2 linked regions of the Homo sapiens genome follow. The protein of the gene in region 1 purifies or fractionates together with the protein of each later gene. This does not show direct contact. Each region holds a gene or a part of one and is shown in the gene's direction. Other genes may lie near its edges.

Region 1 (3,829 bases):
TAGAAATCATGTCTGGGTGTTTCTGGGTGTTAGGTATGCTTGTTTGCAAGGGGTTGTTATTGCCTCTATGCCCTGTCAGTGGACAGAGCTGAGAAAATGTATGTACTTACACTAAGCCATGAATGCCTAATCTATGCATGCATATAGATATGCATATCTATAATTTCATCCTTGTCTATGTCTGTATCAAGCACTAAGCATGAGTTCATACGGATGTCATTGGCTCTAATCCAGTACCACATGGTTCATTCTAGTCTTTTCCTCTTGCTTGTTTGTAATCTCCCTGTTTAATAATAAGAAACCTGGCTTCCACCATCTTCTGTCAATTTACTTGTTGCTCATCTCCAGTAGACATGTAAAGCAGTTTCAGAATTGTTAATCTGTAACTCGTGAGAGACAGTTTTACTCACTAGAGTACAGTGTTTATGTATAGTCCTTTGTCTTTAGTTTTACAGTTTTTAGTCAAAATACCATTTTCCAAAGATAGATCAGTTCTTTTCCCCCAACCCTTCATTGAGGTTGTGCCACACATTTGTAGCACAGTCAGATTATTTTGTCACAGTCCCCATTCCATCTTGTGCATCCCTTGCCCTTTTGGCTGATTTGTAAAATTTGTATGCACTAAGGTTCACTCTGTGCTGTAAAGTTTTATGAGTTTTGACAAATGCAGAATGTCATGTATCCACCACGATAGTACCATACAGATTAACTCCATCACCCTGAAAGCCCCTCTGCTCACAATCTTTTGAGAGTTCCCAGGTAATCTCTTTCAGGTTGATATCTCAGGTTGATCTTTTGTGGGAAAAAAAATATGAGCTATGAGTCTTTCATTTCAGGTGACGGTTCTCAGTCCCGGCTGCACACGGGAACTATCTGGAAGCCTTTAGAAATTATGGATGCCTGATTTTACCTCCAGATCCTGACTTAATTGATCCCACTTGGTTTAGTTGGTCTGGGAGGTATATCTGGTTACTAGACCTTTGAAAATCTCCCCAGATGCTCATGATGTGCAGCAAAGGTTTAGAACCAGTCTGGACTCCTCTATTTCTTGTTTGCTGCCTTTTGATAAAAACACAAATAATTAATTGCTGTATTTACATCACTTTGGGGGATATGATGAATCAGTATGTAAGTTTTGTAAATAAGTAATGTGGCAAGGATGAATTTCACACACTAATCTTGTGCAAAAACACATCTATTTTTAAACTCTAATTGAACTCAAAATGAACCTCAGTTTCTCTTGGTGACAGCAAATTTAATTTTGACAAGTCAAAGTTACTCAATTACTTCTAGTTTAAAACTCGGTTCTTTGGGAGAAAATAGTTGAATTCAGCTTTCCTCCTCCCCTTCTCCGTTCATCTTTTCCCTGGTATGACCTAGGCTTGGGTCCAGGTGATCTCAGGTGGCACCAGCATCAGGGAAGGCACATCTAGCCAGATGCATCTGGGGATCCCCAGACAGAGAATTATGGCCCTGCTTCCTGTGGAGAATGTTGGGAGGGAGCAGGTACTGCAGAGCATAAATGGTTTCAGAGCAGACCTCACAGAGAGCATGCCTAAGAGAGGCCACTTCCGTCTCCCTCAGCGGCCAAGGGGTGTGAAGAAAGTCTGCAAGGTTCTCACATCAGCTGGAGAGGGCCAGAGAAGGTAGCTGAAGATTGAGAGCAGGTGGCCTACCAGAGTCCAAAACCTTGGGCCAGGGGACCCCATAACACACACTTGGGAGTGAATATAAGCCAGTGGCTGAGTGGGGAAGGCCACTGGATCCCAGAGGATCAGTAGCACCTGAGAGTATGGCGATGATGGTTACGCCAGCCTGGAACATGGCCACATGCCCTTAGGGAACATCATGTGGCGCTGTCCAGGTTGATTGAACAGAAAACAAAGCAGAAAAGCACTCTCGGGTGCTGCTGATCCTCTGGGATCCAGTGAGTGGCCTTCCCCACCCAGCCACTGGCTTATGTTCACTCCCCAAGTGTCTGTTATGGGGTCCGCTGGCTCTAGGTTTTGGACTCATTGGTAGTCCCCCTGCTCTCAATCCGCAGTTACCTTCTGTGCCCCTCTCCAGCTGATGTGAGAACCTTGCAGACTTCCTCCACACCCCTTGGCTGTTGAGGGAGATGGAAGCGGCCTCTCTTAGGTGTGCTCTCTGCAAGGTCTGCCCTGAAACCATTTCTGCTGTGCTGTAGCTGCTCCCTCCCAGAATTCTCCGCAGGAAGCAAGGCCACAAGTCTTCTCTGTTTAGGGATTCCCAAACCCATCTGAGGCTTCCGTCATATCTTCTGGTGATTTAACCTCCCAAATAGGCCAAGGAGCCAAGCCCCATCTTTACATCTAAACTATCATTCGCCCCTCCCAGCTACTCCCCTCAGTAGAAAGAGGGCATGGAGGGAAAACTAAATCACATTATTAGTCCTTCCTCTCCTCTTCCTTGCATCATGAACTCCCTGTGTATTGCCCTCTAGCTTGGCTAATGACATGTAGTGCCAAGATTTTAGAATTAAAACATCAACAACAATGCCAACAACACTTTTCTCTGTCAAGAATATAACTCTCTTCAAATAATGGGCTTGGGTTTACAGACAGTTGCTTCTCCTGAGTATTTTCTAAAAATCAATTTAGAAATTCAGTTTCCTTCTCTGTTCTGAGCCATCTGCCTTCTGTTCAAAGCAGTGAAAGGCACTGAACAAAGTGGTGAAGAACTTGAGGCGAGAAAAATGTGGCAAAGAAAAATCTCTATAGATGTCTCAAAACAACACCCATCTACTATGATATTGTGGTATGATATGGAGCAAATAAATACTCCAAATAAATTTCAATTTGGAATGGATTTGGAAGGCAGATTTCCATGCAAGTAGAAATAAAGGCCAATAAGATGTATCTACATTTAAAGACCCATAGATCTTTCCACACATCCAATAGGAAAAGCTGGACATTTATTTGAGACTTGGCTAAAGCTCCAGACCACAGGCAGTCAAGACCTCAGGGTGTAAAAATGGAATATTGATATTTATTCTGTATTTATTCCAGGAAGATTTCACTGCCAAGGTGACAGTTGGTGAGAGCTGTCCAAAGGAACTTTAGTCAAAGTCTGTTGAGATTTTTTTGAAAAAACATGAATTAAAGCAATTGAAGAATGAATCCGCTGGAAAAACAGATTATTAACTATTTGTTCAGATTCCAAAGATGAGTAACTTTACTTTGTCTTTTGTTTTGTCCTTAGCTGGAAAGGCAGCTCATCATGCAGAGTGAAATGAGGGAAAGACAAATGGCCATGCAGATTGCGTGGTCTCGGGAATTCCTCAAATATTTTGGAACTTTTTTTGGCCTTGCAGCCATCTCTTTAACAGCTGGGTATGTTTGCTATTTAACATTTTCTTCAGTCATTTACTTCTTTTTGTGTTTTCCATTACCATTTTATTATGAAGTTGGCCAGAATAAGACTTTGGTCCAAATAGTGTATGTAACCAAAGTAACCTATTAACCTTAGTCCTTGGGGGTAACTCTGTGAAAGCAAGGCAGTAACAGTTAATTTAGTTTCCTAGGTTGCTTCTGTCTTTTTCTCTACTTTATTAGTTAGAGAGAGAGAGCACCAACTTGACACCAAGAAGGGCTCTATGTGTTTATCTCCACAATCCCTTAGTGGTAGATACCAATCCTTACTCATTTTAAAAACAAGGAACCTGAGCTTCAGAGTCAAATAAAGATGAGCAAGTCACAGACCTTGCCCTTGAGAACTGCAGAATCTGGTTAGGGGTATTGGGTAAGGAAATCCTATTTCCATAGAATTATCAAATGTGTTAAGTAACTTCTGAAGGAAAAGGCATTCT
Region 2 (2,888 bases), on another chromosome or scaffold:
TCAGGGGCTCCAACAGGGAGAAAAAACAATCACTGGTCTTGTCTATAAGTCACTCTGCTTTATCTTGCTAAAGACAATTTTTCAAGCAATCCTTTAGTTTTAGTTTTCTGGAATAGCTAGTATTGGGTTTTCTAGTTTTTTCACCTTTTAGTTTTTACTCTAATTTTGTAACCATGTATATGCTAGCAGTCCACTTCTACGCCACCACCCAAATGGGTCAGACCCTTGAAGAAACGTCACTTCAAACTCAGAATGAAATTTTCATTAATATTAAAATTGTGAAGCAAAGGTCAATAGGCTTATATTTAATTAAAGCCTTACTGAAGAATAAGAAATGAGCTTAGAATGACTAGTGTTCTTTGAAAGGTTTTTTTATTTTTGTTTTTTTGGGGTTTTTTTTTTTTTTGAGACCGAGTCTTGCTCTGTCGCCCAGGCTGGAATGCAGTGGTGCGATCTTGGCTCACTGCAATCTCTGCCTCTCGGGTTCAAGCTGTTCTACTGCCTCAGCCTCCTGAGTAGCTGGGATTACAGGTGTGTGCCACCACGCCTGGGTAATTTTTTTTTTTTTTGTATTTTTAGTAGAGATGAGTTTCACCATGTTGGTCAGTCTAGTCTCGAACTCCTGACCTTGTGATCCGCATGCCTCAGCCTCCCAAAGTGCTGGGATTACAGGCATGAGCCACCACGGCCCGCCAAAAGGCTTTAACCCATGAACAAATGTTGGATCCTGACATTTTGTTTAAGAGTGATTTGTTCAATAATTGAACTGAGTTAACATTCTTGGTAAACCAGGTAATTGAATGAAGAAAGGTCACTAAAGGGAGAAATGACATGTTTTCTATTTTCTTTTCATGAAAACACTGTTTTTCCCCCTAATAAAGCATATTTTACTTTGGTGCTTATTTTTCCTCCTTGCAGTCTAATAAAAAAATCTGGACAATCAAACCTTAAAATAGCTACACTCTGCCCTCTGTAATGTAGCATTCATAAAAATTTGGAAGTATTTACATCCTCTTTCAAGATGAGCTTATATGACACAATTATTATTTGCTGATACATGAAAATACTGCACTTTAAGTTTCTCAAGACTCTGAAATATGTAAAATTCAATATTTTTATATTCCCAGAAATTGTTTCTTACAGGTTGAAAGTCTTTTAAGGGCATCACAAATTAACATTTACTCCTAATGCACGCCTAGAATGTATTTTAAATACTTACTAAGAAGAATGAAAATTCTTTGGTTGTTTTATATATAAATAAGGCATATATAATGACACTGTGTTCTGTGAGGGAGCAGGCCCTGTGAGAATCAATTCAGGACAGTATTTTTTTTTGTCCTTTCTCCATCCTTGATCAGAGATAAACTATTAAAACTTTAAAAAATACTCAAAAATATGTAAGTTTTTTGGTTGAACCTTTAGATTTGCTCATAATGTTTAACATAACAACATTTATTTCAAATCACTGAATTCATGGAGATGTGGACACGCTTGGTTTGCTCTATTTTTGTTTATGTGTGATAGTGGTTCTGTCATCATCATTCATGTTTTTTAAGGCCTGGTCATAAAACTTTAAATTTTACTAGTGTTACTTAATGTATATTCTAAAAAGAGAATGCAGTAACTAATGCCCTAAATGTTTGATCTCTGTTTGTCATTACTTTTTCAAAATTATTTTTTTCTGTAAAGTATAATATATAAAACTTCTTGCTTAAATTGAATTTCTATATTAGTGGTTAATTGCAGTTTATTAAAGGGATCATTATCAGTAATTTCATAGCAACTGTTCTAGTGTTTTGTGTTTTTAAAACAGAATTAGGAATTTGAGATATCTGATTATATTTTTCATATGAATCACAGCTGTTGACAATGTCCCATATATTTAAGAAATTATATCATACTGATACTATTTGTAACATTTTGATTTGATTTAATCTCCAGGGACAGAAATAATTCATTGGTAAAGTGTAATAATGCGTTTTTTAAAAATGCTTTGAGAGGTAATTACTTGCATATGAGAGAAATAAAACATTTGGCACATTGTTTACAGGTGTGAAAACTTTGTGGGTTTGTGTTATTCAAGTAACATTTGCTTTACTTTTTGTCTTTCCCTTTTCCTCTTCCAATCCCAAAATAGTGAGAAGTTATATTGATAGTTATGGAGGACTTTACAAGATACTAGTCAGAAAAGCTTTTTCTCAGGGGTACTGAGCCCCTTTATCACACTAGAGATCTGTGGCAGAGACCTCCAATACTGGGGGATTACAGAGAATGCGGTTGACCTAGGGGCCCAGCTGCACTTTGAAATCCATTGCTGTATTTGCATTGAGCCCATGCCTTCCGTGGTTTCTCTCAGCGACTGGCTGAGTATGAAGTTATACTAAGACATACTTAGTCTGGAAATTCTAGGAGACACAGAACTCCTCTGACAGCCGACTTTGGCTTGAAGACTCTTCAGTGGCCTTGCAGAACCTTTCTTAGACTGCATGGCAGTCTGGGATGTTCTACCATACCGCTGTCTTTCTCTTCTCCTCCCTCTTCCACATGGGGCTCAGACTACCAGTTTGGAAGGCTCACCCAGTGCTGGATTATCTGGTAGGAAGAATAAGTTCATGCTGAGGGCTGTAGCAAAGCAGGGGCATTAAAAAAGGAAAAAAAAAAAAAAGGAAGAAGACTGTACCCAAGCTTCGTAAGAAAAATGCCATCCAGGGTGGACTTACTTCCATGTGTTTTATGATTTAGTATTGTTTTTATTTTGAATTATGCATGAAGGAGGACACTATCATCTTTTTGGTGCTTTGAGTTTCTAAGTATGTTGATCTGGTGCTGCCTGGATATCTGTTTTTAACGAAGTTCTGTGTGTGTTTCTAATGTACAGCCAGGACTAA

The links.
Region 2: the proteins of PLGRKT (region 1) and VPS13C purify together in Homo sapiens (affinity purification with mass spectrometry; one large-scale study listed by BioGRID and IntAct). This does not show direct contact.

The regions. Positions count from the first base shown.
Region 1 is NC_000009.12:5,361,282-5,365,110, reverse strand, and holds part of PLGRKT (plasminogen receptor (KT)), read left to right. Parts: intron 1-3,222; coding exon 3,223-3,353; intron 3,354-3,829. UniProt on the Homo sapiens protein: Receptor for plasminogen. Regulates urokinase plasminogen activator-dependent and stimulates tissue-type plasminogen activator-dependent cell surface plasminogen activation.
Region 2 is NC_000015.10:61,851,560-61,854,447, reverse strand, and holds the end of VPS13C (intermembrane lipid transfer protein VPS13C), read left to right. Parts: 3' UTR 1-2,059; downstream 2,060-2,888. UniProt on the Homo sapiens protein: Mediates the transfer of lipids between membranes at organelle contact sites. Necessary for proper mitochondrial function and maintenance of mitochondrial transmembrane potential.